3 separate regions of the Homo sapiens genome follow, and regions 1 and 2 are each linked to region 3. The links come from fine-mapping of genetic effects on gene expression. A gene starts in region 3. Each other region holds a variant in brackets. All regions are shown on one strand. Distances are from middle to middle.

Region 1 (10,597 bases), 750 kb after region 3:
TCTAGCCACTTCTGCATTCAATTTGTTTTTAATCAAAATATGTAAAAATAGAAATCTTGCCTCATGAAAATACATAATTGGAAAAGACAAGACCTTTCAAAAGGTCTTAGGACCCTCAGGGGTCCTTGACCTGTACTTCGAGAACTATTGCTCTAGGCTACAGCGGCAGTGGGGTGGGGAAGAGGTCACAGACGGCTTGTGATGAATAGACACTTCACATCCCAGAAGGGAAGCAAAACCACAGCTCAAACCCAGATCATTCTGGGATTACACCATTTTACCACTTATCCTATGATCACTTCTCATTTTTTTTTTGATGTTCCATCTCTGCTTTTAGTACTTTACTCATCTATCTATCTATCTATCTATCTATCTATCTATTTATCTATCTATCATCTATCTATCTATTGCAAACTTAAGAAAATAGTGTGTTAAAAAGAAAAGCTAGAGGGCAAGTGCTAAATGTGGCATGACTAGAGGGCTTGTCACAGGAGAGCAGAGACTGCCATCCCTGATGACTGGCACAGGGTTTCAACATGAGGTCTCAGTGCTGGTCAATGAATAAATGTAGAGGCGTGATTTTAGATCTCTCTTTGATAACCCATGATTTTACAGAAGAAAAGATCTTAGGCTTTGAAGGTGTGATGTTTGATGATCCAGGTGCCATTTAGTGAGGAAAAGTTAAACCCGCAGTGTCTGATGTTGTTAGCTTTGGACATGTGTGAACGATTGACATGGATATCCCCCCTTCTAATCCACATGCTTTGGGGGAGGATCTAGGAAGCACTTATGGAAGAATATGCCATTGCAGCTCAAGTGTGGAAGCTGAGCACCTGCGACCTGTGTGAGATCGCCAGGAACAGCGTGCTGCAGAGCGGCCTCTCGCATCAGGTATGGAGTGTGACGGTGCTGCCTGTGTCCCTCCTGGGAAGGCTGCCTGCTGTGTGCCAGGAGCCTTCCAGGCACTGGGGATCTGTGATGAACATAGCAGGCAGGGCCTCTGAGACACTCAGGCACAGGGAGAGAAGACGCGGCAGCCTCCTGTGTTTTCATGGCTGCTTCCTCACCCTTCTCAGACCTCTACGCCTCCTTGGAGAGGCCTTCCCTGATCGCCCATTCTAAAATAGCCACACACTTGCTATTATTCTCTATCCCCTTAATCAGTTTTTCTCCATACCATTTATTCCTGCTGATGTTTAGTTATGTGTTTTTCTGTCTTTCCCTCTAGCATGTAAGCTCTGTGAGGGCAGAGGTTTGTTCAGAATTATATCCCCGGGCCCTAGATAGTCCCTGGCACATAGCAGGCGCTCAATATTTCTTGAATAGATGAACAGTATCTAGACTGAATAAAAATCTAGACTATGGGACTCAGACATCTGTCATTTTTTAAAAAGCCTGATGAGGAGCTGGCACTGAGACCCATGTTCTGATGTACGTTAGGTCCCCCGACACCTCCCTGGGTGATGTCACTGGTTGGGAAGAGGTTGCATTAGGGGCTGTGCTCGTCGGATGATGATGCAGCAGAGTTAAAGGCTTAAGATTCTTTTCATGCGCAGTGTGGTGCCTTGGATTGGCCCTCCCCAGGAACATTGTCCTTGTCAGCTCTCAGGGGCTTCTTAATTAGAGTCTTACCTCCTTCCCCTTTGCCTTTCCCATCCCCAGCAGCTGCTGCAGACCTTATCTTTCCTCTCTGATCAAGGAAAGCACAGCCAGGAATGAAGGGCTGTCTGAGGATGACTGAGGTTGTCAGGGTGACATCCTTGAGGACACAGAGGCCAGCAGGAATTTTAAGAGTTCTGTGGGGATAAGATGTCCTGACCAAAGATCTGCTTCAGGGGGACTAGTCTGACTTGCTGTGACTGATGTCAAAGCTGCCCACATGGCTATAGAAAGTGAATCAAAAGTATATAGTTTCATTTGTATTTCTCTTGGTCCACAGGAAAAGCAAAAGTTTCTGGGACAAAATTATTATAAAGAAGGACCTGAAGGAAATGATATTCGAAAGACAAATGTGGCTCAGATCCGGATGGCATTCCGATATGAGACCTTATGCAATGAGCTCAGCTTCCTGTCTGATGCTATGAAATCAGAAGAGATCACCGCCTTGACCAACTAGGTCCAGCATTTGACATGCATTTTAACTTTTTGGTTCAATTTCAAGTCTGCTGTGGCTAATAGTGGTCAAGATTCCGAACTAGGACTTTCCTCTGTGAAGAGGATGCCTCTGAAGAAATTTTAAACTGGTGATTTTGGTTGCACTGCTCACTTTAAGAGTTAACATGCTCACTTGTTAGTATTTCTGAGTAACAAGATGGTGACTTCTCCTTGGGGATCTGGGAGCTGAGCACTTGTCTATACTTGTTCCTAATTTTCCAAGTATTTCTCTTGAAACTGCCAGTGCCTGAACTGTTGGGGCCAGGATTTTCCCTGGTCAGATGCCAAGTAACATGTGGTTTTCTGCCATACTTTTCTCCATTGGCCCAGGTAGGCTAATTGGTAGTTGTTCATTTCAGCCTCTGGATGGCTGGCTGCCTTAAACACAATCAATTTCAAAGCTCCATTTCATAAAGGGGCTACTTTGAAGGAGTTAAGATGGAAGACTTCCTTCTTGACAAATTGTGTTTTTAGTGAATTTCTTAAACCGTTTTATTTAGCCCTCCTTCCCTCTTTCTAGTTGGAAGCCAAATGTACTCATGAAAACAGCCACTCCTATTCTGAGTCTTGGTTTCTTCACCTAGAAAGTGAGGGTTTGGACTAGATGAGTGGCTTTCAGGGTGTTCTGTGAATCTCCTCATGAATACTTTAGGGTAGGGGAGGGAAGGGAGTGAGTGATGCTCAGGGGCTGTCAAAGTGACTGCGTTCATCAGTTTTACACTGGGGCTGCTACATAATATTTTCATTTGAACGAAGAACTTCAAAAAGCACAGGACTAGATGATCTCTGTTCCTTTTGGCTCTAATATGCTACAACTGTAGGCCAATTATCACTTTACCAATTAAGAGTTAGGCCAGATAAGTGAAATTTAACTTAAGGGCACACAGCTAATAAGTAATAGGCCTAAACTGGATTTCCTTATTCCAAATCCTGTCTTTTCCCCACTATTCCATTAGACCCCACAAATGTTAGTTGTGTGTGTGTGTGTGTGTGTTTTTAATCACTGTAACCGGATGCATTTTTTTAAGGCAAAATTTCTCCCTTATCTACTATGATGACTTCAGAAGATACAATGGTCCCAGGGGCCAAGTAGAAAGCATTTTTAAAGATTAATCTGAATTAAGCTTTATCAGTGTACTCTTTATCTGTGTTACTAGTGCCTGGTATGTAGTAGGTGCTCAATAAATGCATATTGAATAACTAAGTGAATTTCTTTTGGCAACTTTTTAAGGACATGTGCTCTTAGTACTTAAGAGGCTGCTCAAGGACCTTCCTATCTATTTCTGTGGTCAAATTCAGACTACAGGAGGTCTTTTTGAATCATTATAGTTAGAAGAAGAATCCAGTTTCTGCCTGTGAACTTATTTGACTTTAGATTGTCTCATCTTGTGACTTTATAATGCCTGTCCCCTCCACTGGTCAATTCAGCATATGGAAGTATAAATGCAGTCTTTTTACTAGGCAGATATATATGCTATCTTACAGCTAATTATGAAATTGAATGAAAATCCATTGTTATCTTAGGGATTAGTTTTGAAAAGCCCCCGTTTATATACATTTGCCCTAACATAGGAAGTATTGTGTAGTTTCTCATTGTCATTTTATCTGTATCAAGTATCTTTTTTTAAATTGTTAAATAAAGTCAGCTAGGACTGTGGCTCAATAGTTTAAAACTATTTAAAGATAATCATATTTAAAGCAAATGTTAAAGATTTTTACTCTTAAGATTGGGCACCATGAAAAGCTATCAATAATAATAGCTAATTTATCTTTTACTAAGACTCCGACATGAATGACATTCACTAGGAAAACTCAAAATTTTCAAACTGAAGCTCACCAGACCCAGAAGATAAATCTTCCTTTGTTATTTTCTCTAACTTCTACCCTGTTATAGTTCATGAGCAAAGCTATACATGTTCCTTTCCTTTTCCCGGGGTATTATTTTAGTCTGTCCAGCTAACACCTTGTTGATATGGACTCTAGAATAGGATTGCGCTGTTATCCCTAGGGTAACTTGTTCCGTTGGTCAAGTTATTGGATCAATTAAACGTGGTAATTCGCTTTGACTGGTGAAGTCTCGGCATGTGTTGCTCGGAGGTCGGATTGTGCTCCGAGGTCGCCCCAACCGAAATTTTTCACGCAGGTTTGATAGTTTAGGGCCTGTGGACTTGTTAAGTGTTGTTTGCGTTAATGAATTAAAGCTCCATAGGGTCTTCTCGTCTTGTTATACTATGCCCGCCTCTTCACGGGCAGGTCAATTTCACTGGTTGAAAGTAAGAGACAGCTGAACCCTCGTGGAGCCATTCATACAAGTCCCTATTTAAGGAACAAGTGATTATGCTACCTTTGCACAGTTAGGGTACCGCGGCCGTTAAACGCATGTCACTGGGCAGGCGGTGCCTCTAATACTGAGAATGCTAGAGGTGATGTTTTTGGTAAACAGGCGGGGTAAGATTTGCCGAGTTCCTTTTACTTTTTTTAACCTTTCCTTGTGGGCATGCCTGTGTTGGGTTAACAGTGGGGGTAATAATGGCTTGTTGGTTGGTTATAGATATTGGGCTGTTAATTGTCAGTTTAATATTTTGGTCTGATGTAGGCTTATGCGGAGGAGAATGTTTTCATGTTACTTATACTAACATTAGCTCTTCTATAGGGTAATAGATTGGTCCAATTGGGTGCAAGGAGTTCAGTTATGTGTTTGGGATTTTTTAGATGACAGGTGTCGAGCTTGAACGCTTTCTTAATTGGTGGCTGCTTTTAGGCCTACTGTGGGTATTAAATTTTTTACTCTCTTTACAAGGTTTTTTCCTAGTGTCCAAAGAGCTGTTCCTCTTTGGACTAACAGTTAAATTTACAGGGGGATTTGGAGGGTTCTGTGGGTAAATTTAAAGTTGAACTAAGATTCTGTCTTGGACAACCAGCTATCACCAGACTCGGTAGGTTTGTCGCCTCTACCTACGAATCTTCCCACTATTTTGCTACATAGACGGGTGTGCTCTTTTAGCTGTTCTTAGGTAGCTCGTCTGGTTTCGGGGGTCTTAGCTTTGGTTCTCTTTGCAAAGTTATTTCTAGTTAATTCATTATGCAGAAGGTACAGGGATTAGTCCTTGCTGTATTATGCTTGGTTGCAATTTTTCATCTTTCCCTTGCGGTACTATATCTATTGCGCCGATTTACAATTTCTATCGCCTATACTTTATTTGGGTAAATGATTTGGTTAAAGCTGTTCGGTAGTAAGGTGGAATGGGTTTGGGGCTAGGTTTGGCTCAGAGCGGTCAAGTTGAGTTGAAATCTCCTAAGTGTAAGTTGGGTGCTTTGTGTTAAGCTACACTCTGGTTCGTCCAAGTGCACTTTCCAGTACACTTACCATGTTACGACTTATCTCCTCTATATAAATGC[G/C]TAGGGGTTTTAGTTAAGTGTCCTTTGAAGTATACTTGAGGAGGGTGACGGGCGGTGTGTACGCGCTTCAGGGCCCTGTTCAACTAAGCACTCTACTCTTAGTTTACTGCTAAATCCACCTTCGACCCTTAAATTTCATCAGGGTTATCGTAGTTTTCTGAAGTAGAAAATGTAGCCCATTTCTTGCCACCTCATGGGCTACACCTTGACCTAACGTCTTTACGTGGGTACTTGCGCTTACTTTGCGGCCTTCGTCAGGGTTTGCTGAAGGTGGCGGTATATAGGCTGAGCAAGAGGTGGTGAGGTTGATCGGGGTTTATCGATTACAGAACAGGCTCCTCTAGAGGGATATGAAGCACCGCCAGGTCCTTTGAGTTTTAAGCTGTGGCTCGTAGTGTTCTGGCGAGCAGTTTTGTTAATTTAACTGTTGAAGTTTAGGGCTAAGCATAGTGGGGTATCTAATCCCAGTTTGGGTCTTAGTTATTCTGTGTTCAGATGCATTAAAGCCACTTTCGTAGTTTATTTTGTATCAACTGGAGTTTTTTACAACTCACATGAATTTTAGCTTTATTGAGGGGAATTGATCTAAAACACTCTTTATGCCGGTTTCTATTGACTTGGGTTAATCGTGTGACCGCGGTGGCTGGCACGAAATTGACCAACCCTGGGGTTAGTATGGCTTAGTTAAACTTTGGTTTATTGCTAAAGGTTTATCACTGCTGTCTCCCGTGGAGGTGTGGCTAGGCTAAGCGTTTTGAGCTGCGTTGCTGCGTGCTTGATACCTGTTCCTTTTGATCGTGGTGATTTAGAGGGTGACTCACTGGGGCGGGGATGCTTGCATGTGTAATCCTACTAAGAGCTAATAGAAAGGCTAGGACCAAACCTATTTGTTTATGGGGTGATATGAGCCCGTCGAAACATTTTCAGTGTATTGCTTTGGGGAAGTAAGCTACATAAACTGTATGGGGTGTCTTTGGGGTTTGGTTGGCTCGGGGTATGGGGCTAGCAGCGGTGTCCTGCAAGCTTTTCTGACATCTTTTCTATAGCACTTTGTGCTTTTATTACATTGCTATACTTAATTGGCCTTTTGGGGGACAAATCCCTACTTTCCTTTGTGTTTGCAACTGGAATAAGAGGCAATTAATTGTATACTGGCTTAGGTTTCTAAAGCAACAGTTTTTGAGGCAGTTATCCCTTCTTTATCCTTAAGGGCTCAAGTTCACTTTATGTGTTACTTCAAATTGTACCGCTGAAACCGATCGACATCATTGCTCTTTGCCTCGTGAAAACAAATCACAGCTCCTGGGTTGTGATTTTTCACGGCCTCTTGGATTAAACAAGAGCCGAAAGCACTTTTCTCTTGCTTTCTCTTTACTTCTGAGTGTTGGTGAAACAATATTCTTCATTTCCTGCGTTTGAGACATGACTGAAGGTGATATACCCAAATACTCTGCCTGAACTATGATCATTATAAAGAACAAGTGTAACTAGGGGAATACTAACCAGATAAACAGTTCCTTGGAAATTTTTGCAATTAGTAAGATAGAAGATGACAGAGAGTAAGACTATAAACAGCTGCAAGCGTGTCAAAACCTATCTCTGCAAAGGCTTTTATGTATTTTGACAGTAAAATGTGCATTTCTCCACAGTATGATGATACAGTCAATTTAACTACCAACTGCCACTCATTCTTATGTCCTTGCACTTTTCAGCACTAAGATTCTACGATGTTTCTCTAATTACATTCTTATATTTTGGAAATGATTTTACAAGGTAAACAAACTACAATAGGGTTGAGCATTTTATTTTTGCTGTCTGTTGGGGTAGGGGTCCACAACCCCTGGGCTGTGGACAGTACTGGTCTGCTGCCTGTTAGGAACCAGGCCGCACAGCAGGAGTTGAGCCGCGGGCGAGTGAGTATTATTGCCTGAGCTCCACCTCCTGTCAGATCAGCAGCGGTATTAGATTCTCAAGGAGCATGAACTCTACTGTGAACTGCGCATACGAGGGATCTAGGTTGCATGCACCTTATGAGAATCTAACTAATGCCTGATGATCTGAGGTGGAAAAATTTCATCCCGAAACTATTCCCACCCCAACCCTGGTCTGTGGAAAAATGGTCTTCCATGAATGCAGTCCCTGGTGCCAAAAAGGTTGAGGACTGCTACAGCAGGGTGAATAGACATACGAACAAATGAGTCTGTTGTCAGCTGCTTAGGTTTGTATTGTATCGTCATTGTGTGGCCCAGCATGAATGTGAGTGACCTGTTAACTTCCCTCATCTGCAAGTAGTTTTCTTATTCCCGGATAGACTAAGCTTGACTTCAGACAATAGCAGTTAAAAATGCAAATTCTTCAGACTACCTTTTAATAAACTCAACTTCCCAATGTTAAAAATCACTGAATCAAAAGATATTTTCAAGCAGCCTTTTCTCCCAGATATATATTAGATATAAGGAAATCGAGTCCAATTTGAAATGAATTTTAAAACAGCACACAAACATCACAAGCCCCCAGCGCACAATATAAAATAGTTCTCTAAGGAATATAAACATTTAGTATATTAGAATGTGAAATTACATAGGAAAATAATCTCTTCAATTAGCTAAAATCACTTGCGAAAGATTATTTATTGCACAATTTATCAGTGGGTACTAAGAATAACACAGATCCTATTATTCTCAACCTCTAAATTCAGTACATAGTAAAATTCATTTTCTCAAACTAAGGTTCTATACATAATCGGAGTAAACCCTCTGTTACTGAGTTAGGATAGGGAAAACAAATTCCTTAGAGTTCATGAAACCACTTCACAAATCCTAGAAGGCACACATTATATTTCCTATCATAGTAAGTACATTTAAGTACTTCATATTTAAAAAAGACAAAGCTGTACAGAATACAAAAAGTGTACATTTCATCCATTAAACAAATTTACAACTTTTACGATTAGTTATTACAGTAGAACTGACCTAACATTCACATCTAAATAATTATCACCCAGTTCAATAGAGCGAACAAAGAGCTGTGCTCATTTATTTATTTGATAAGGCTAATAACATTTTATATTCACAGTAGATCAGTAAGTGTCTTGGAGCTCATATTGTAAAATAAAAAGGTTTGGGCCCTATTGAGTCACTGGGCTCATTGTTAAATAACTCCTTGAAAGGTGAAGGATTCTGGGGGATAAAATCATTGGCTATCCCTGGAAAGATCCAAAACTCTGTAAGGTAACTCTGTTCACTTTTCAGAAACATTTTAAAATTAGGTAATCTGAATTAAACTCAGCAAGTCTAATCTAAAAGGACAATTTAAAATCTTAGAGCTGGAAAAGATTTCAGTGGATCATCTATCCCAAGGTTTTCAAAATATGTTCCATGGAATACTAAGAATCTATGGAGGAGATACAGGGTTCTGCAAATTTGACTTGAATTTAATTAAAAAATTTTTTTAAAAAAAACGACTCCCACTATATGTGTGTTACTCACCAAATTCAAACATGCTGGATATCACCAATGCATTAATGTTTTTATTCATTGACTTAATCACATTTATAGTATATAAAGTTTATATAATAAGGAAATTTATAATAATATGACTTTTATATAGTGGGGTATAGGGTATGTGTGTATGCACACGTGTTTAAAGGTTCTGTAAGATTTTCCTTGAAAAAGTTTTTGCTGCTGAAATAGTGTGAAAACCACAAATAAAGTCTCAGTTTCTAAAGTAAGAACACATAAACAAGAGTAAGAGACTTTCTCAAGGTCACACAACCACCAAGTGCATTGCCAGGTTGATATGATGGAACCCCTGGTACTCTGCTTGCATAAACCTCCATAGGGAGTAGTTAGCTATTTGGTACTTAGCTGTCCCATTATGAATGTCAATGGATTAGTCTTCAGTATTTTTGGGGGCGAAATCAAGCTACCCCTGGCCAGATGTTTTTCCTTGAAATTGATTTGAATTTTATTTGCTCGCCTATTAAAATCCTACTATCCAGAAATTCTGTCATCAATAAGTGGCAACTTAAATTGTGTACCCTGGTTTAGGAAAATAGTAATATTTGCAACTTATGAATGATAAGTCAGAAAAGTTACATGGAATGTTAAATTTTAAAGGAGATAGGCCCTTGTTTTATTACATGCCGAAATGTTAATGTTAGAAATTTTAGTTCATAAGCAAAAAAAATGGTTGAGGTGCAACTGAAGATCACAATTCCATTATTACTATATTGTTTCAGAATATTTTAATGGAAAGAGTATTTCAATGGAAGTACAGTGAAACAGTAGGAATGCCAAATTATCTTCTAATTTTCATAAGTATTTTATGTATATACGGTAAAAAAGCCTCACTCTATTTTCTTGTGTTTTTTTTTTGATTAGGAGTCTCGTTCTGTCTCCCAGGCTGGAGTGCAGTGGTGTGATCTCGGCTCACTGCAACCTCCACCTCCTGGGTTCAAGCAATTCTGCCTCAGCCTCCCGAGTAGCTGAGATTACAGGCACCTGCCACCATGCCCAGCTAATTTTTGTATTTTAGTAGAGAGAGGATTTCGCCATGTTGGCCAGGCTGGTCTCAAACTCCTAACCTCAAATGATCCACCCACCTCGGCCTCCCAAAGTGCTGGGATTACAGGTGTGAACCACTGCACTGGCCTCTTGTCTCTTAATCTAAGAAATTTGAGGACTCTGAAATCTCAGAAAGATGTTTTCAAGTTAAGGAAATAAAAGCACCATAAACCAATATTAAATGACCTATAGTAATTTAGAAATATAAAATTTAGTATTTGTGATGCAGAATAATTTCCTTCTGAAACTCCAAGATGTGTGAGCATTATCAAAGCCATTTAGAACAGTTACCCAGCTGTGGGAAAGCATTTCCAGAACAGCCAAGAAAATTCCCCAGGAGAAATCCATTTGCAAAGGAAAGTCACACCCAATTTTGTAGACCTCACCCAAATTATACAGTATGGCAAAAACAAACAAACAAACCTTTAAGTACAGTAGTTCCAAAACACACTGCTAAAGTTATGAAATAATTGTGGATC
Region 2 (10,597 bases), 48 kb after region 3:
TGAACCCACCTTGGCCTCCCAAAATGCTGGGATTATAGGCTTCAGCCACCATACCCAGGATCAGCCTTGTAATATTTGTAGAATCTGTAGTGACGTCATCTTTCTCATTTCTTATATTGGTAATATGTGTCTTTTTTTTCTCAAGCAGTCTAGCTAGAGGTTTATCAATTTTATTGATATTCTCAAAGAACAGCTTTTGGTTTCATTAGTTTTCTTTATTGTTGGCCACAAGATTTTGGGGACCTAAAGGCAAGTGTGCTTCAAATAAATTTAGCCTTATTATATTATGTAGAATTGGGAATGATAGGTATTTCAGCTAATAAATTAATTCTATGTCAGCATTTCCCTAAGTATGGTGATGAATAGAGTTTTAGGCTTCTCTCAGGTATCATCTGGATTTTGTTGTTCAAAATAATTTTGTATTTATTTTGTTGCAGGTTAAAAAGTATACAGACTTAAAAGACTAAACTGCATGAAGCATTTTAGTTTTGTTTTTCCGTTATGGAGTGAAACTTGCCAACTTCACTTATTTATAAGAAGAGAATCTGAAATGGAATTTGGAGAAACATGAATTTATAGGGTCTTTTTTTTTGCCCATGTGCCATTAAGTACTTTGTAAAATTTAAAGGCCTATAAAAATAAGCTATGACTCAAACCCCTGGAAAGATCAACATTTTGGAAGTAAAGTTTAATACATTAAAACTGGATTCTGCTTTCAGAATTATAAATATTGAGCTACAAGAGACACTATACATCAACACGTGAAAACCTGGATATGGTTAAACAGACCCTAGGAGAGTGTATAGCTAATATTAATTTTTGTTATTTCACAAATTAAGATTTAACAAACATTGTGTGCTTTGTGTTACATCCTTCCATATTACATGGCCTTAAATATTAAGCTTTGATGCAAAATTGCCTTGTTATAAAACAGATTGGATTATGTTCATTTTTGCCAGTTTGCAGTTGAATAGGCAGCAGACAGCAGAAACTCTTGAATATACCAACAATCCATTAGCTACAGCTATTTTGCCAATATTACTGGATAAATTTTAGAATAACCAACCTGTGTGGGGGCAGCTTAGCTGCTCACATATGTGCTCACAAGGAAGGCTCATATCTTCAAAAGGCAAATAGCTTTTTTCTTTGGGGTAGGACCTAGCATAGTGCTGTCATAAGGTAACCATGAGGAGAATCACATAAAGCCAGACCAAAGTGAATCAATTTACAATTTGAATAAACTTTGAAATCACAGTAAAAAATACTGAAAAAGTTCTAAGATGCCCTCAAAGATTTACTCTAATGCCGAAATAAAGGGGATGCTTTCTTCACGTTTTCATTCATACTATTCATGTTTTCTCCTGATATTATATTTTAAAAAGAAAGTTTACATAAAAATTTAATCTTTGTATATTGGATTTTTTTTAATTTGGCTCAACTATTTTAAGAAAAGGGAGTCCTGTAATGATATCATTTGAGCTAAGCCAATTTCTTTTAGAAGCAAAAAATCTGCCAGATGTTGCTATTATGAAACAGTGAGCTAGCATTTATAATTCATTTGACACCTGGATATACTGGCGTAAACAATGGCTTTTTATATGATGAGGCAGTTCTAATTTAAGTTCAGTGCTTCATCTGTTTTCTTGTAACTTTATTAGTACTAATGGACAAGCCTAGGCATATGTCCATGGACTGCCTTTTGGCATTCAATGTTAGAAATGGTTAATAAGCAGGGAACACATTCCATCTGGGAAAGCTTCACTTGCTGCTGTGTAATTTTGAACCTGTTTTTTTGATGTTTCTGGGCCTAGTTCTGTTGTGTGTCCCTGAGAGACTGAGGGCAGCACTAATTCGAATTATCTGGTAAAAGCCAGAGTCATGTAAAGCACTAGTGTTCACTTGAAAGGCATTCAAAGAAGGCATTTTCTAATGCCTAAAACCAGTATGTCGAAGATGATGAAACACTACCTTATAATTAAGTCAGCAAGAGTCAGAAAAACTATTTGCTAACTATAGTCTTCTTAGATTCCTCTGTTTTTGAGTGAATAAACAATCCCTTTTCAGCACAAAATAATTTGCATCACCAAAGCTGATACCTCTGGTAGCCAAGCATGCTTTACTTACTGCAATTAAGGTCATATGCTTGCTTTGCTATGACTTGTCTGCACTTAGGTTATTATGTATGAGGTATTAAGTGAAAGGAGGATTCAGGCAAATTCTTAAAAATTTATGTTTTAATTTAAAAAATTTTAATTTGGCACAGCCAGATTTGAAGTCATACTGATAGGGTCTCTAGATCCTGAACAATATTACTTTTTACAGTTTGTGAAGCATTCACCTACAAATAATCGAACTTTAATTAAAAGTTAACTTCTGTTTTTGATTTCAGAATCAACTGGTTTATATAAAACATTTGAATTTTAACTCTTTACTTGAAAAAAAAAACAGATGAATCTTAAATTCAGCTGATTAGTAAATAAAACAAAACAGCAGAAATTAAGCATATACCCCAAATTGTTTTAATTAACTTAGCCTTTTGTAGTTTTAGCATCTATTGTATTCTAAAGATAATAGGAATGTAAGTTATGCTACATCTTAGTGTATGTTAAATTGCTTTAATCATACCACTTAAGGGGTACTCACAGAATACAGGTTACCTTCCAGCATCTAGACCTCTCCCACTCCTCCCCCCCAGCCCCATCCCCAATAATAAAATAGAAGAATTTCATTCCAAGTAAGGATTATTGTACTTGGGAGACAATGATGTTCCCATCTTTGAGGACAGTGTATCTTACATGAGAACCTCCTATCTCTTACTGATTGTGAGTGGATTATTTCGCTGACCCTAATGTTTAGGTGTGCAGAATTCTGCAAGTTGAACATAGAGATTTAACATATTAAGTAGTCCATTTAACTTAAGCCAGATTTGGCTGTACAAGCTCATTCCCCTGGAATCCTCCCACATTAAAGGAATTTTTAAGAGGTAAAAAACCCAAAAGGGAGTGGGGAGAATGGGAGGAAACACAGCACTGGGCCAAAGCAATTCAGCAAATTTTTGAAAGATGGAAAATAGAAGGAAGAATAGCAGTAAATGATAGAAGAGGAGAAGCTATACTGGGATTCCTGCCAGGAGGAAAATGATTTGAGAAGGTAACGATTTGCTGTGTAAACCCAGAAAGGCTCAGGGCACAGAGGCCCAAGTATTGAGTAATGCAGGGGTGAAATGGAGGCTATCGTGGGACTAGCTGGAAGTCTATGGAGGCAGGAAAGGACCCCAGGTCCTTTCCCACCCCATGTAGTCATATGATTACCCTTTTCAGAGCAACAGATCGGAGGTTTATTTTCTGAAAAACAAACAAACAAAAAAACAAACCTGATAAGCTCTAGACTTGGGAACACCAGACACAACTGGGTTAGTGGAAACACTGAAAATAGCATGGAAAAAACGAAAAGCCTGCATTACTGAACTGGGATTTCCCTGGACCTATTTCCTGCCCTGTTTCCATAAAGCAAGCAGCCAGACCTACAAGTACTTTCTGGGCCCCAGACAAATTCTTCTCCGTAGAAACAAGGTAGCTGCTGTTTTCTTTCTCTGGAACTCTAGTTTACTGAGATGTTGGACTTACTAATTAAAGATTATTATTTTTTCCTCCAGATTTATTGAAGTGTTATTTAAAAATAAAATTTCCCTACTTTAAGTGTATAGTTTTATTAGTTTTGGTCACTGTACACAGTTGTGTAACCATCACCACAATCATGATACAGAACAGTTTCCTGACGCTGAAAAGTTTGCTTATGCCCTTTGCATGATGATTGATCCCCTCCCTTGGTCACTGGTCCCAGGCAGTCACTGATCTGCTTTCAGTCACTATGGTTTTGCCCTTTTTAGAATGTCATATAAATAAACTTATGTAGTAGTCTTTTCTGCCTGGCTTCTTTCACTGAACATAGTGATCACAAGATTGGTCAGTCTTTGTAATATAAATATTTCATTCCCTTTGTGTGCTGAGTGGTATTCCACTGAATTAATATGCCAGAATTTGTTCATCTCTTCATCGGTTGATGGACATTTGGTTTGTTTTTCATGCTACCCCTTTATAGTCACACTCATTTCCTTCTCCCCCACTATCTTGAATCTGGCAACCAATAATTTATGATCTTGTCATTTTAAAATATTAGCTGGGCATGGTGGCTCACGCCTGTAATCCCAGTACTTTGGAAGGCCAAGGCAGATAGATCACCTGAGCTCAGGAGTTCAAGACTAGCCTGGACAACATGGCAAAACCCTGTCTCTACCAAAAATACAAAAAATTAACCAGCTGTGGTGGTGTGCACCTATGGTCCCAGCTACTTGGGAGGCCAAGGTGGGAAGACTGCGTGAGCCTGGGAGGCGGAGGTTGTAGTGAGCCGAGATCACACCACTACACTCCAACCTAGGTGACAGAGTGAGACTCTGTCTCAAAAAAAAAAAAAAATTATATACATGGAATCATACTCAGTTGGACCCTTTGAGATTGCCTTTTTTTTCTTTCAATATAATGTCCTTGAGATCCCTTCAAGGTGTTGCATGTGCCAGTAATTCCTTTTTACTGTTGAGTAGTCGTCCACGGTATGGATGTATCCCAGATTGTGTAGCCATTCACCTACTGTAGGACAGACATTTGGGTTCCCCCCAGTTATATTCAAATCGGATATGTGGAAGGGTAATTCTTTAGGAAATGTGGAGCCACTGAAGGTTTTTGTTTGTTTGCTTTGAAGACTTTTGTGGAGGGGAATAAAAGGATTGTATCTGAGCTTTTGGAAGATTATGCCAGCAATTCTACTTAGGATATTCTAGATTTTTTTTTTTTCCCCCAAGACGGAGCCTCGCTCTGTCTCCCAGGCTGCAGTGCAGTGGGGGCTTCTCAGCTCAATGCAACCTCCGCCTCCCGGGTTCAAGCGATTCTCCTGCTTCAGCCTCCCAAGTAGCTGGGACTACAGGCGTGCGCCCCCACGTCTGGCTGATTTTTTGTATTTTTAGTAGAGATGGGGTTTCACCATGTT[G/A]GCCAGGATGGTTTTGATCTCTTACCTCGTGATCCACCCACCTTGGCCTCCCAAAGTGCTGGGATTACAGGCGTGAGCCACCACGCCCGACCAGGATATTCTAGATGGTCTTGATGAAGGGTGGTAAGAGCATGAACAAGACTTGTGGTCTTTCAAATTCTCATATATTCATTGAGATTATCTATTTATTGTCTATTATATTCCAGAGACTGAAACTGTAATTGTGTTAGATACTAGGGATATGAAGACTAGTATGACATAGTCCCTGTTCCCAAGAATTCTCAGACTAAGTAGAGGGCAATAGTTACATACAAATAAACATACTTTAGTGCTATAGATGTTATCAAAGAAGTCTATACCTGACTCATTAGAAATACATATAAAGTGGGAGCGTGAGGGTCAGCAAAAGATTCAAAGAATTATGAACTAAAATAACATGTGTAGTGCTCAGAACAGTGCCTGGCACATAGTAAGCAGTCGACACAAATTAGTAATTATTGTTAGTAATGGTGGTATACGGAGGCAGGAAATAGTCTAGTCCAATTGATAAGCATAATAAAAAAGCAAGATAAGAAGTGCTTTCATGAAGAACTCATATGCTTTCACCTGCCTAGAAGTGAGAAGAGATAGATGCTTGCTCCTCTCCTTTGGCCTCAGGTAAGCTTTCTGTTTCAGAGACAATGGTCTCCAAACTTCTCCCTCATCTATTTGCCAAAAGGAGTATGAATAAAAGGGCCAATATTCAAACAGAAAACAAATATAGTATACTCTTTGCTGCAAAGAGTTTAAAGGTACATGCTTAACCTTGTGACCAGCTCCTCCAGTTACTGCTTGGACAGATCAATTGAAATTCGTCAATCGGTCTTGTCTTTAATAAGTAAATTAGAGCAGTAAAAAACATAGCTTCCTGTGTGTGGGGTGAAAGGTTGGAAAGTCACTGCTCATGAGTATGGAGTTTCTTTTTGGAGTGATAAAATGCTCTAAAATTGATTGTGGTAATTGTTACAAAACTTTGTGAATGGATTCAAAACCACTGAACACTTTAAATAGGTGAATTGTATGATATATATAGTTCAATAAAGCTGTTATTTACAAAAATTATGTAGTGATCTGGAAAGTTGATCAAGTGATTACTAGAATAAAAACAAAATAAAACATAACCACATACTAACTTGGTGTCATCACAGTTAGTTTCAACTCTGGTTCCTGAAAACATAGTTCTGCCTTTCTTTCCAATCGATATTTGAGGCCAGTGTGTTTCAAAGAGGCTCACCATTCCCACAAATGTTTGACATGCCAGAACCCATTCATCCAACCCTGGGATTGTGGTCAAATGAAAGCTGGAAATAGGCCTGCTTTTCCTAGGCCAATTCAGTCTTCAACTTGCAAGCTCAGTGCCATCCAATTCTCAAACCCAATCCTGACCAAGGCCCCATCCAGAGGTCTGTATCTGATGTGCCTGCGATGAAGGCAGGAGGGAGCCTAGAGCAGTCACATCTCCCCTACCCTCACTGCATTTGAATGGATATACCTGGGCTCCCACTTATAAGTGAGAACATGAGGTATTTGGTTTTCTGCTTCTGCATCAATTTGCTTAGGATAATGGCCTCCAGCTATATCCATGTCATTGCAAAAGACATGATTTCATTCTTTTGTATGGCTGCATAGTATTCCATGGTATATATGTACCACAGTTTCTCCATGTGGTAGAAGTGACCAGTGTTCTCAAGCCTGTATGCCTGTCTGGCTGGGCCCTGATTATTTCTCCAGGGGTTAGGCTTTACCTCTTATGTTCCCAGGCACAAGCTGGGGTCCTCCCAAACTGGGCAGACCATGTGCTCGATTTCAGGACCCGTATTACCTAGAGATTTTGTTCTTAGGTAATAAGCCCAAGTTTGCTTCTCTTCTTTGAAGATGGTCATTTAGAGTGCTGGCTACTTCACTTGGGGCAAGCCCAACAGCCAGCTTAGCTGTCCTAGTTTCAGAAACCAACTAATTTTTTTTCTTTTCCATTCCTAGGAGTCTACTGCTAAGATTTCAGCATGTCCTGTGGCTGAGTTAATCAGAGTTATGACAGGAAGGTACCGGGCACACCATCGCAATGCTCCATCAATGCTAGTATGTTGTGTTCTTTCCTTCATATCAAGTCAACTCAAGCTTGCTCTACTTACCTGGTGTACACAGTCTAAGAACTGTAAGAAGACTGGAGCAAAACCACTCCCCTGACAGTTGAGGGTCAAGCTGCTCCTCTGACTGAATTTGTGACCAAAAGAGAGCCACTCTTTTTCAACCAACATCTGGAAGCCTTCAAGTGTCCTATAAAAGGGATCACTGAGTAACTGAACCAGGGATGTCACCTAGGGCATAAGCAGGATGGATTGTCATTAATTTTAGTTCTGAAAAAGGCCTATTACTAAGATAAAAGCACTTCCTTCTGATGATAGCTAATTCACAAATTTACCTGGACAGCAAATTTGTTCACTAACCATTCCAGGATGGCCAATAAAATTAATTTTGTAAACTTGCCAGTAAAAACTAAAGCTCAAATTCATTTTGGCTACAAGTTTACTTTCAGGGAATTGAGACTTTAATCCTTAACTGGCCAGTTTGCTGACAGCAACCTTTTCCTAAGTTAATCAGAGGCCAGAGGATCAGTTAAAATCAATTCTACTTTTTGGCAGATGCAGATTAATGTCTTAATGTAGTCTGAACTCACACTTTTCACTCTGGAGTGAGTTAAGGCGGGGCTTATAGAGAGCCAGGGGATGGACTGACAAAACCCAGGAAGGATGGTCCACGCCTCACACTGCTGGTCAAGGGCTCCATCCGCAAGCCTGCATGGTACATCTGTGGATGGGAGAGCTTGATGCCCGGAGCCAGAGCTCCAGGCTGCGTAGGGGCTAAGAGCTCATGGTACGGAGTTTTCTGATGGATACCAGGTGCTGTTTAACACAGGACTTTCTCTGTCCATAAACACATTAGTCATTATACAAAAGAGTCATCTGAAGAATTTAAAAATGACCAAATGGAAATATAAATATAAAATATCAAAAAATATGTCTAATAGTTTACTTGTGCAGTGATGTCCCAGCCTTCCTCCAAACAGACCAAAACTGAGGAACCATTCTCAAGTACTTCTGATACAACCACAGCCAGCTGCATTATCCTGTGAAGCTAAGAGACAGGAAGGAGAACACAATTAGACCAAGCGCTTTCTGAGTGCAGAAGTCAGAGAGAGTTGCTTTCAACCCTGGATAATCAAACGACTTAGGGATAAAGCGCTTGCACAAAAGAACCACATAATGTTTTAAATACCTAAAGTTCTTTCAAATCAAGATTAAACAATGACACTTTTGACTGGATGCAATGACTCATGCCCATAATCCCAGCACTTTGGGAGGCCGAGCCGGGCAGGTCATTTGAGGTTCGGAGTTCGAGACCAGCCTGGGCAACATAGTAAGACCCCATCTCAATGAAAACAACAACAAAATGACACTTCAAAAAAGTAGACACATTTTAAAACAATACATTCTAGTAATACATAATGAAATAAAATTACCTTACATGATTCCCCCAAAAGTAGGTGAGCTATAATTCCATAGAGTACAAAAAACAGAGATTCTATGTGGACTTCCCAACAAAAGACGGAAATTCAGATGAATTTTATTGGATTTAAAATTTGTTTTTCCATGATGTAGTAAGTTTTGTTTCAGACATTTTTTTTTTTTTTTTTTGAGACAAAGTCTCGCTCTGTCACCCAGGCTGGAGTGCAGTGATGCAATCCTGGCTAACCACAACCTCTGCCCCCCGGGTTCAAGCGATTCTCCTGCCTCAGCCTCCCGAGTAGCTTGGATTACAGGTGCATACCAGTGCACCCGGCTAATTTTTTGTATTTTTAGTAGAGACGAGGTTTCACCATGTTGGCCAGGCTAGTCTTGAACTCCTGACCTCAGGTAATCCACCTGCCTCAGCCTCCCAAAGTGCTAGCATTACAGGCGTGAACCACCACGCCTGGCCTATTTCAGGTATTCTTAATTTTTTGGGAATTAGATAGTGGTGATAGTTACACAATGTTGTGGACATACCAAAAAGCGTTGAGTTGTGCACCTTTATCATAAGGATAAATTTTATGGTAAGTGAATTATATGTTAAAAAAGAAACTCCTGGCTGGGTGTGGTGGCTCAACGCCTGTAATCCCAGCACTTTGGGAGGTTGAAGCAGGAGTAGTGCTTGAGCTCAGGAGTTTGAGACCACCTGGGCAACATGGCAAAACCCCATCTCTACAAAACATACAAAAACCAGCCAGGCGTGGTGGCATCTGCCTGTAATCCCAGCTACTCAGGAGGCTGAGGTAGGAGGATCGCTTGAACCTGGGAGATCGAGGCTGCAGTGAGCTGTGATTGTGCCACTGCACTCTAGCCTGGGTGACAGAGCAAGACCCTGTCTCGAAAAATAAAAATAAAAAAGATACTCCTATTTGTCTATACTGTGTACTAAATGAGAAAAAAACTTTCAATATATTTGTGCTAAGTTTTTAAAGCCACATCAATTGGCTCAAAGTCCTTAATAAACAATTAAGGTATGAGAATAGTATATAGATTTTAAAACCAGATGTATAACATTGTAATTTTAAAAAATATTTTAATGATCATCAGACATAATTTGCAATTTGAATCCAACTCTGAACAAGAACAAAAATGAAAAAACCCATCTCTTAAACAGAGCTAGGCTACTTTAAACACAGGAATAAGGCAAATGCCCTACTCAGTAATGAGAAGCTCCTCATGTAACTGTTTCTACAACATAGCTATCACCAGGCCTGAATTCTTTTGGGCTCAGAATTTGTTCTAAGAAATGGCTATTATTAAAAAGTCAAAAAATAACAGATGCTGGCGAGCCTGTGGAGAAAAGGGAATGTATATACATTTCTGGTGGGAATGTAAATTAGTTCAGCCATTGTAGAAAGTAGTTTGGTGATTTCTCAAATAACTTAAAACAGAATTACCATTTGACCTAGCAATCCCATTACTGAGTATATACCCAAAGGAATATAAATTGTTCTACCATAAAGTCACATGCACACACATGTTCAGTGCTGTACTATTCACAATAGCAAAGACATGGAGTCAACCTATATGCCCATCAACGGTAGACTGGATAAAGAAAATATGGTACATATACACCATGGAATACTACACAGCCATAAAAAGAATGAGCTTATGTCCTTTGCAGTAACACAGCTGAAGCAAACTAACACAGGAATGGAAAACCAAATACTGCATATTCTCACTTATAAGTGGGAGCTAAACATTGAGTACACATGGACACAAAGAAAGGAATAGACGCCTGGGGCGTATTTGAGGTTGGAGGTGAGAGGAGGGTGAGGATAGAAAAACTACCTATCAGGTACTATGCTTATTACCTGGGTGATGAAATAATCTGTACACCAAACTCCCAAGATATGCAATGTACCTATACAACAAACCTACATATGTACCCCTGAACACAAAATAAAAGTTAAAAAAAGAATTTGCTTTAAGAGTTAACTTTTAAG
Region 3 (10,597 bases):
TTTCATATAATGAGATGGACTTTGGTTTAGGGACATTTCCTGAAAACACTGGGTTTGGAGTTTAGACCCCAAGAAGTTAGCTGTGGCCTCATGTTTGGTGTTTGAGTCACGAATGTGGGGAAGCCATGGCTGATGTGTCAGCTCACAAACGGGAACTTACAAAGATGATTTCTCATTCATTGTTGCTGTTACCTTCAAATTTTCTTACCTCTGTTTTCCTTAGTTTTCTTTTTATGCCTTTCAGTTTTTCTTTCACCAGAGTAAACCGTGTGGCTTTTTGTTTGTTTGTTGTGGTTTGCATTGTTGCCAAGATAAAATGCCTGTTGTGGACTAAGTGGGCCCACTCAGGCCAGCTTGATTGTATATTGGAAAGCTGATCTTTCCCTCTTGGAGGGAGGGAGAGGACACTGGTTGGTGTGTTTAAAAACTGTTCTTTCTGAGGCGGGCAGATCATGAGGTCAGGAGATCGAGACCATCCTGGCTAACACGGTGAAACGCCGTCTCCACTAAAAATACAAAAAAATTAGCCAGGCGTGGTGGCGGGCGCCTGTAGTCCCAGCTACTCGGGAGGCTGAGGCAGGAGAATGGCGTGAACCCGGGAGGCGGAGCTTGCAGTGAGCCAAGATCATGCCACTGCACTCCAGCCTGGGCGACAGAGGGAGACTCCGTCTCAAAAAAACAAAAACAAAAAACTGTTCTTTCTCTATCACAGTGGTTCTCAACTGGTGGTAATTTTGCCCTCCAGGGGACATTTGGCAACGTCTGGAGACATTTTTTGTTGTCACAACTGGAGGGAGTGTTGCTGGCATCGAGTAGGTAGAGGCCAGGGATGCTGCAAAACATCTTAAAATGCCCAGGACAGCCCCCATTAACAATTATGTGGACTAAAATGTCAGTAGTGGCAAGGTTGAGAAAACCTGCTCTACAGAAAGGCAAGTTCTATTATCCAGAACACAATATAACCCTTGGAGTCAGGGTTTCCCTTTCAGATGTCCTAGGAGTTGACTGACCTCTTCAGTGCAAATGAGGAGCACCTGGAAGGGAGAATGCCTGTTTCTCTGTGAGCTGGCAGAGAGCAGAGGGCAGGGACCTCTGACACACCCAGAGCCTCTGGAGGGGGTTGCTTTGGATATATTTTAAAAGACTATGATGCAAGTTGCTGAGGCATGAAGTGTAAAAGCTGCCTTAACCCTGATTTCTTTCCAGGTGGTGAAACACAGGGTGGGTCTGTCAGCACCATTTAGCAGCTTGTGAGGAATGAATTTTCAGATTTGCCACTCAGGTAGTGATGTGTCCCGCACAGCGCTTGTGCTTGTTCTAACTGGCCAAGCTTTAATTGCAACCTTCTGGGTAGTTCCAGCAAGGCACAGCTGCCCTAGTGGGGTGAGGATCAGGTGAATAAGATCAAGACATATGAAAGCGTGGGAAGAGGCACTCCTCAGCTTTTACAGTGCAGAGGAGGTGCTCCAGATTTGTTAAAGGATCAGTTTTGGGAATAGTTTATGGAATCTCTATTTCTTTCCTCTCTTTCCCCCTCTACTCCTTTTTTATATATTAGAGACTGTAATAATCACCTCCCTACTTCCTACTTGGCAATATCCACTAAAGCTAAAAACAACAGCTACCCTCCGGCCCAGCAGTTTCCACTCATTTCAGAGAAATGAGGCTGATGTCCACCAAAAAACTTGTATAAGAAGATTCACAACAGTTTTATTATAATGGCCCCAAACCAGAGACACTCAAATATCCACCAGTAGAGAATAGACAATTGTATTTCCAGACAATGGATACTACACCTAAATTAACATATTACAGAGAGAGGCAACCCGGCTGAATCTCACGGACATCTTGAGCAAAGAAGCCAAACACAAAAGAGCACATACTATATGATTCCTTGTATATTAATTTCCAAGACACACTGCTAATCGGTGGATTTAGAAGTGAGGGTGGGAGGCGGGTGGCTGTAAACTGGGAAGGGACACACTTGAACTTTCTGGGATGCTGTCAATGGGTGGTGGTTACACAGGAAAAAACAGCTTCACACCCAGGATTTGTGCAGTTTACCGTCTGTAACTGCAGTGCCTCTAGAAGCCTGAACTGGCTCACCTTTAAATTTTTTTTTTTTTTTTAAGAAGTCTCGCTGTGATGCCCAGGCTTGAGTGCAGTGGTGTGATCTCAGCTCACTGCAGCCTCTGCCTCCCAGGTTCAAGGGATTCTCCTGCCTCAGCCTCCCAAGTAGCTGGGACGACAGGCGTGTGCAGCACAGCCGGCTAATTTTCGTATTTTTAGTAGAGGTTTCACCATGTTGGCCAGGCTGGTCTCAAACACCTGACCTCAATGATATGCCCTCCTCAGCCTCCCTAAGTGCTGGGATTACAGGCCTGAGCCACTGCACCTGACCTCACCTTTCAATTTCAGATAAGGAACTAGAAGGTGACACGTGAAATCTGTACCGGACTTCTAGGATGCTGTTCATTACACCACCCACCTCCTCTCGGGTCCTGATTACATTTTTATGTCAAACATTTAATTTCTCAGTGCCCCATCACCCAGCTAGTGGCCATGTGCCACCCCTACATACAGAGGAGGGCCCTGACCCTTTCTAGTCCTGTGCTCAGCTTCCATTGAGTCTTCTGAGGCTGCCGAGTCTTTGGCCCTGGGTAGTGGATACATCTGTGGTGGACACTAAATTCCAAGCAGGGCTACACTCAGCCTCCTTTTCCTGTTCCCACCACACACAGGCAGTCCATGGTCTCTTAGGATTGTGCACCCACAGGAATGCAGGCCTTTGTGTTTATATCCCCCTCAACAGTTCACAAGGGCCAGCTGAGGTCCAGCAGGACTTCAGGAGTGGGTAGACGAAAGCTCTGTCTAGCAAACCCCATTCTGTTCAGTCCCCAAGACCCGCAGCCCACTGCCCCCTCCTCCTCCTCATCGGAAGTCCTCGTTTCCTGTCCCATTTCACCCTGCCTCTCCCCCCTCCGACAACACTTTCTGCTTGGACCAGCAGCCCATGGGGGTTTCAGGGAGCAGTCTCCCTGCCCCACTTTCTGCATTTTCCCTCTGCTCTCAGGTTCCCTTTTCTTCCTGATGCATGGGACCAGGACGATCCTGAGCAGCTCCCCTGGGAAGACTGTTCCCCCCACAGGCTGGTTTCAGGGGATACCAGGACTGCTGCACCTCCACACTCATGTTTTCCACTCCCCTCAAAGTCCAGGCTGATAGGAGAGCAGCGTTACTGTCCAACTCTGCCAAACGTGTGTCTCCATTCCCATTTGGAGGGTGTGTCTGGAATCCTTGTTTACAAGGTGTAGAGGTGGAAGAGTTCATCCCAGAGCCCCATGGCCCTGTACACCTCACTGCAGTTAGCTGGAAGATGGTTAAAGCAGTGAGTGACTTTTTTTCTAGAGCTGTTGCCCTCCCAGCCTGGGCTACAAACAATCAGTGCTTGAATCTTCCTGCCTACCCCCACCCCAATCAGGCCTTTAGGGCACTAAGTTGGAAAGGAGCCTGGACTTCAGAGTCAAACAGGCCTGGGCTCTACTGTGGTTTTACCTTACTGTGTCATCTTGGGTGGGTTAGGATACTGTACAGGTGATGTGTCCTCAGGGTGTCACACCTGAGGCACCTGGTGTTTTGTCTTCATGCATGTTCTTTAGAAAGTCACGTGGAGGGGGTTTTCCATCTGGGCTGGGCCAGGCCACTTAATGGGCCTGTCGCTGGTGGGCTGGCCGGTTCTGAGAAGATCTGGCAGGTGACTGCGGTTGGTCAGCCATTCAAGGCTACTACTGGAGAGTCCGGGAAATACCTCAGGTGCTCTCTGCATTTCCACAGGCAAGTCTGTAACTTCTGAGGTGTCCTGCAAAGGCAGGTAGCTGGCAAATCTGTGAATGGATGAGTGCACAGAGGAGGTCCCAGGTGAGGGTGACAGCCCAGCAACACACTTCCCCAGTCACACCTGCTCTTTGGAAGGTTCCAGCAAGGCTGTGGAGAGGACCCAAGGGCCTGTGACTGCCACCTCCCAGTAGACCCCAAGGACCTCCAGCCTCTGCTCTCCCCTCAAGGGTCCTGTCGCTCCCTTGGTGGCCATTAGCTGTGGTGGCCAGAGCTGTTCTCCACTCTACCTCCCAGGGCCTCTATCAGCAGCTGACGGTTCCTGCGGCTTGTAATGTTCCTGCTGATCTGCCTCACTCACTACCCGTCACCGCTGATGAACTTTCCCAAAAGTCAGCCCAGAACTCCTTAAGGGAAGGGGCAGCCTCGTTGTGGTAGTTCCAGCACCCTGTACCAAGCAGGTTCTTAGTAAATGCTGACTGTTGAGTGGCCCCTTTCTGAAATAAATTCCTTGTTCTCAAATATATCCTGGATCTGGTCCCCTTGGGTCCAATCAGCGCTTGAACCAGACAGCAATGACTGACCACCTCTACTCAAGAGTTTCTGGTTTATTTGGAGCCTCTACCCCACCCAACCCTAAGGCTGGGAACCCTTTTGCCTTCCTTTTTTCTTAAAGGAAGTTAATCCCAGCACATGTGAAAGATGGACCATCCATCCCAATGCCTCATGTCCTGGGCTTCATTTCTCCATTTCTCCCAGGGCACCCTGGGAGTCTACATGCAAACAGAGATACTAGAAAGTTAACTTCCGGAAACCCCCTTGATAGGCCAATTCGTCCCCTTTTCTCTCTCTCCATGTGATTTTTTTTTTTCAAAAAATATCTTTTGTAGTTTTTTTTTCCTTATCACCAATACATACCCAATGTGGAAAACTGAGAAAAAGCAGGTTTGTAAAAAGAATAAAATGCTTCGCCATAATCTCACTCTGCAGACAACCTACAATGGCAAAAATCGCAATTAATTTTGCACCAACCTAATACTAGGATTTCAGTGCACAGCCTTCCAGGCCTACATTTAGGTTTGTTTGAAACAGGAACATGCGGTTCAACCGCCAACCTGAGCCCGCGTCCCCTAAGGCCAATACCACCATCCTGACCCTCCTTGGGAGGTCCTGAAATGACCCCAGTTCCAGGGGCAACGAAATGCATACGCTTTCGAGGGAAGGAGGGGAGGAAACGACCCTGTGGCGCAGGTCTGCACGGCCAAGGGGGTTCCCTGAGCTGGTGGAGCGGCGTGGCGTGGCCTAGGAAGTCCCTGGGCGAGGGAGGCGGGGCGCGGCGTGGTGGGGGCGACTGGGTGGTGCAGGCCTGCGCACGCGCGCAGCCGTGGGCGGGACGGGCGGCCTGGGGGCTTCGCCGCCAGGTGGCAGGCGTGCGCCACGCCCGCAGGTTCCAGCCCCGACCCGGGCGCGCGGGGCCGACTAGGGTCGGGTCCAGTGTGCGGTGGTCGCTCCGCTCCGGGCCGCTCCGCTCTGGGCGTCAGGGCGCGGGGAGCTGCCCCGGGGTTCTGTCCACCGGGGAGGAAAGCCACGAGCACTGAGCGCCTCCTGAGAGCCAGCCCTGACGTGAACTCATTTTATCTGCCACGACCCAGAAGGTGGGCGCAATTTTCCTATGTTCCAGGTGTGAAAAGTGAGGCTCAGGGAGCTAGGCAGTTGCCCAAGGGGACACAGCAGTGACGGCTCTGGGACGAAGCCCAGGTGTCCAGACGCGATGGCCTCTTCCCGCGTTCTCGGCGGGTACGGCGCGCCGCCTGCCTGCGGCCCGCGGGGAGGTGGTCGGGTGGCCGCCCCGGCTCCTCCTCGGGCCCCTGAGGATTTCCGGCCGGGACCCCGAGGAGGGCCCTGTGGCCTTGCGGCATCCGTGGTCACGATTCCAGCCCCACACGGCCTCCCGCCAGTCCCTGCGAGTGCCCAAGACGGGGCCGCCCCTCCCGTCTCCTCCCTTCTCTCCCCTCCCCGGCGTCTCCCGCCGAGGGCGCTGCAGGCGGCCTGGTTGGGATGAGGGCGGGCAGGCGGCCCACAAGCAGGGGCCTGTTTCCTGACTCGTTTGACCCTGGCTGTCCCTGCGGAGGCCCCAGCAGACCCAGCAAGGTCATCTAGGGCGAAATTCCAGTCTGAGCCCTGAGCAGTGACTTAAGTTTTCCCGATAAGGCTCAAGAAGGGACACAGATTGTCCTCCCCACACCCCGCACTCTGTCAGCACCTCCACTCTGGTGAAGCCTCTGCTGCAGACAGCCCGGCTCGAGAAGAGACAAAGATAGACTTGGGACAGATAAGGACAGAGACAGCCAGGGAGAGAGGGGCAAGGAGCTCAGAGGTGAAGATGGGGCCGCGCCGATGGGGAGGCAGCGGGTCTGCGGCCGCCGAGATGGGAAGTGGGCCCTGGAGCGGGCTTGCCGAGCCTACGACCGGGGCTGGGATGTTGGAGGAAGACGCGGTCATGAGGGCTGAAAAAGAAGGGGTTTTTGGTATGGTAGAAAAATGGATTGGGCTGGCAGCTCGAAGGCCACAGCCCTGTACCTCTGGGCCTGGTCTCGTGTGTGCACCTGGGACCGGTGGGTGAGGGGTGATGTAGAGTCAATGAGGGACGAGCTCGCTGAGTCTCCAGGAGGCAGGAGTGGAGAGGGCGAGGGAGGGAGGGTAGGACCTGTATACCTACGGTGGAGGGGGCAGGCGGGGGACAGATGCTGCTGGGCCAAGACTACTGAGTCTCTCCTGCCTGCTGGAGGTCCCTAGCTCAGGACTTATTCCATGCACACTCTGATAGAATATTTACGCCCAACACTAACTGTTTGGCTTGGCAAATAAGCAAAGCCATAAAGTCACAGCTGGCCTGTAGGCTCCCAGTCACCATGTGCAGCTGAGTCACAACCACTTCCCCCACCCCCTGGGGAGCAAGCGCCTATGCTCATGCCTGCACTCAGACACATATCCACACAGATACCCACAGATGCCGCGTGCCACTGAGTCATAGCTACCTCCTCAGAGAGCACGTGCCTGCATGTACTTGCACACAGGTCCCCACAGATGCCATATACACCTGAGTGTGAGTCATCATCACCACTGAACCCTGAGGGAGGGCACCCAGAGTGTGTTCTGCCATCCTTGCTTAGAGATACCCATATACACACATATACAGATATGTGCCCACCACACATCCTGTTGTACCTGCTGCATCATACCAGCAGATCAATAAATGTTTGTGGAATGAATGAATGAGTAAACAAATGAATGAACTAACAAGTGAAAACGTGAGTGACAACCACACTGCGTGGATACTCAGTAAAATTGGTTGGGGCAGCCCTGCGGGGTGGGTCCCAAGCTCTGTGTCCAGAAGGAGTTGTCTTGCTCCAAATATATCCTCTGTGGGCGGGCAGGGAGCCAGGGCTGCCTCCCAGACCCTGACTTCACTGGGCCGGAGGCCCAACCTCTGAGGAGTTGAAGAAAATTAACAAAGAAGAGGCCCTGGCTTTCTGTAGCCAAGGCTGAGCTGTGAGATGAGTTGGTGGGGGCATGTGTACTCTGGAAATACCACTTACTCAGAGACCTGAGATGCAGGACAGAGTGCTCTGCTGAAGGGCCCAGAGAGGACTGGTTCTGGATTGGGCTTCTTGGGAACTCTGCCCCAAATGTGCAGAATGTGCAGGAGGCCTGGTTCCACTTGAGATCTGGGGCAAATACAGTGCTTGGGCTGAGCTGGTGATTGCAAAACTGAGGCCCCCTATTAGACAGTTTTCCATCTAGGCCTGCCCTTCTGGCTTGGGCTTGTTCCCAGAGCTGCTTTCCTGTCTCTCCCTTGAATCTTCTTTTCTGAAGCCCCTGTGTCTCTGCCCTAATTCATCATCTGGAATATTTTAATATTACCCCAACTGGTCTTCCCGCCTTTAGACAGTAAGACCTATCTATCTTGCTTATAGCTGTCAGAGTTATTTTTCTAAAATACAGGTCCAACTATATAACTTTCCTGTTCAAAATCCTTCCATAGCTTCCCACTTTTCAGCATTAAAGTTGGATGGCCTCAGCCCTGTGATGAGATCCTTCATGACCTTACTCCCCTCTACCTGGAGGTTATGAAAGGGTAACATGTGGATGGATAGTTGTTGGTTATATGGATCGATGGGTGATGGGTGGACTCTAGGATAATGGATGCTTATAGGGATGAATGGACTAGTGGACTGATCTGTAGACAGATGATTAGAAGTATAAATGATCAGTCAGGCACGTTGGCTCATGCCTGTAATCCCAGCACTTTGGGAGGCCGAGGCAGGCTGATCACCTGAGGTCAGGAGTTTGAGACCAGCCTGACCAACATGGTGAAACCCCGTCTCTACTAAAAATACAAAATTAGCCAGGTGTGGTGGTGCATGCCTGTAATCCCACTTACTTAGGAGGCTGAGGCAGGAGAATCGCTTGAACCCAGGAGACAGAGGTTGCAGTGAGCTGAGATTGCACTATTGTACTCCAGCCTGGGCAACAAGAGTGAAACTGTCTCAAAAAAAAAAAAAAAAAAAAAAAAAGAAGTATAAATGATTAGGAGGGCATGTAGGGTTGGAGAGATGGGTGGATGGATGGTTGGAAGGATACTGCTCAAGTCAAGGTTGTTTTTGTTGCAAGGAACAAAGAAAACTCCAAATGTTTTCAAGAATGAGGAGTACAATTGTGAGAATACAGTGGACAACCTTGCAGAGAGCACTGACATTCAGGCCTCATGAAGATTGGAACTGGAAAGTCAGGAACGGTGGCTCTTCTCTCCGTCTCCCGAGGACCTCAAGGTTCCTCTCTTTCTCACATTTCTCTGTACTCATTCCTGTCTCAGCAGGCTCCCTCTGCTCGATTTTCTTGCTCATGGTCTACTCTCAGCCACTCTTACTCATTCCTTCTACAAGTTTTTACCAAGTGCTTATTTATGTGACTGTTTGTACCTCAACAAAGCTCCTACGTGTTGAAAAATAGCAAGCAAAACAAAGTTGCTGCATTTATGAAGCATACTTTCTAATGAGGAGAGAGAGACAGTAGGCAGTTACATGTGTGCTGACGTTAAATGCTATGGAAAAAATAAAGCAGGGAGCAGTTTGGGGAGGGGTTGGGTTTCTGCTGCATATAGGATACTCAGAGGGGGTGTCCCTGATATGGTCATATTTGAGCAGAGATCTGAAGAAATTGAGGGGGTGAGCCGTGAAGATATCTGGGGGAAGAATGCTCTAGGAAGAGGGCGTGGCAAGTGCAGTGGTCCTGAGGTGGGAACTGTGTGGCACTGTGTGAGGAACATCAGTGAGGCTGGTGTGGCTGATGTTGTGTGAACATGGGGAGGATGGTGGAAGATGAGGTCAGACGGGTAGCAGAGGACAGATCATGAATTGTGTTACAAGCCATTGTGAGGACTTAGACTTTTACTCCAAGAAGGAGGGGAGGCATTAGAGGATATTCAACAGAGAAATGACATGATCTTAGATTTTAAAAAGGACCTCTCTGGCTGCCGTGATGAGAATAGACTGAAAGGGACAAGGTGGGAAAGGGAGACAGACAGGGAGACCACTTAGGAGGCAACTGCAGAAATCCAGGTGAGAGATGTTGGTGGCTTGGACCAGGGTGGCAGTGGTGAGGGCAGTGATAAGTGGTCCAGTTTAGGACGTATTTTGAAGGTAATCAGGATTTGCTGATGGATGGGATATGGGTGCGACCTCCCTCTGGTGAGGTGGCCCTGCTCAAATCAGCTGTGGACAAGGAGGATACGTGGTATAGTGTGGCTGTCTAGCTCCACCCTCCAGCAGAGGCAGCTTGACATTTGTCTTGGATAATGAGGGCTAAATGCAGGGTTGAGAGTCACGCCCAGCAGCAAAGCTGTTTCTGTCTGAACTGTAAGGTCACTCTAAATCCCACTCTTTCAAGGCAGGTATATTCAGCAGGCTTAATTGAAAACTGGAACATAGCTTACCATTGTTAGGATAGAACTGGAGCTTGAAGTGACCTGACTTCTCAGTGAGACCAAACATTCACACTCTCCAAGGAAGAAAATGAAGGAAGAGAATGTTTATGACTGGCTAAGTCTGTCACCATCCAGTACAGAGAACCTCATTTGGGCAGAGTTTTATGGCAAGCTATTGAAGTTATATATGTACGCATATGTCTGACAGATCTATATCTATAGAATATATCATATATGTGTGTAATACATAAGCTACTATATATATATGTGTGTGTATATATGTTAAGATTATACACATACAAACACAGTTGCCTTTAGTTGAGGAACCCCAAGAACCTGCCCCTTGTCCAGTCAGGGTTGCTGCCCAGAGAAATAGAACTGATTTCACTTAATACACATGATATGATCCTGAAACTTTAAGCAGAAAGAAATGTTTGTGTCCATTTTCCTTAGAAAGGGGAGGTGGGTATGGTGGGTACCAGAACTTAGACATTCCTTTGTATTATAAATGAGTTGTGAGGATAGTGAGTAGATGTATGTAACATAAATAAAGGAATGTTTAGGATGATGACTATTTAGGCTGATGATAGACTAGACTACATCAGATTAGATAGATAGGCACAGGTGGCTGGACAGAATGTGAACATGGATTGTTGATAGCTAGTTCTCTGTGAGCCAGGAAGCAGACCCTCACCAGACACCAGATCTGTTAGTGCCTTAATTTTGGACTTTCCAACCTTCAGAACGGCAAGAAATACATTTCTGTTGATTATAAGC

The links.
Region 1: its variant is fine-mapped to the expression of SBF2-AS1 in lymphoblastoid cells (GTEx, PIP 0.99).
Region 2: its variant is fine-mapped to the expression of SBF2-AS1 in whole blood (INTERVAL, PIP above 0.99).

The regions. Positions count from the first base shown.
Region 1 is chr11:10,503,769-10,514,365 of GRCh38, forward strand. It overlaps AMPD3 (adenosine monophosphate deaminase 3), which reads left to right. Exons shown (of 15, transcript NM_001025389.2): 14 at 781-891; 15 at 1,940-3,811. The coding sequence ends at 2,116. It overlaps RNF141 (ring finger protein 141), which reads right to left. Exons shown (of 6, transcript NM_016422.4): 6 at 7,905-10,597. MIR4485 (microRNA 4485) reads right to left here and starts at 4,558; the gene lies at 4,502-4,558. It also overlaps the pseudogene MTRNR2L8. RefSeq lists a silencer at 5,354-5,648 and an enhancer at 7,211-8,121. The variant G/C (reference allele first, on the strand shown) is at 5,554.
Region 2 is chr11:9,800,786-9,811,382 of GRCh38, forward strand. It overlaps SBF2 (SET binding factor 2), which reads right to left. Exons shown (of 40, transcript NM_030962.4): 31 at 8,116-8,217; 32 at 7,215-7,400. SBF2-AS1 (SBF2 antisense RNA 1) reads left to right here. Exons shown (of 3, transcript NR_036485.1): 2 at 7,063-8,499; 3 at 9,475-10,534. Among named protein-coding and RNA genes, the nearest start is that of LINC02709, 47 kb to the left of the region's middle. The variant G/A (reference allele first, on the strand shown) is at 5,044.
Region 3 is chr11:9,753,015-9,763,611 of GRCh38, forward strand. It overlaps SBF2-AS1 (SBF2 antisense RNA 1), which reads left to right and starts at 5,279. Exons shown (of 3, transcript NR_036485.1): 1 at 5,279-5,489. LINC02709 (long intergenic non-protein coding RNA 2709) reads right to left here and starts at 6,519. Exons shown (of 3, transcript NR_033972.1): 1 at 6,415-6,519; 2 at 4,753-4,829; 3 at 1,756-3,884. RefSeq lists an enhancer at 3,558-3,617 and silencers at 5,089-5,488, 5,609-5,728.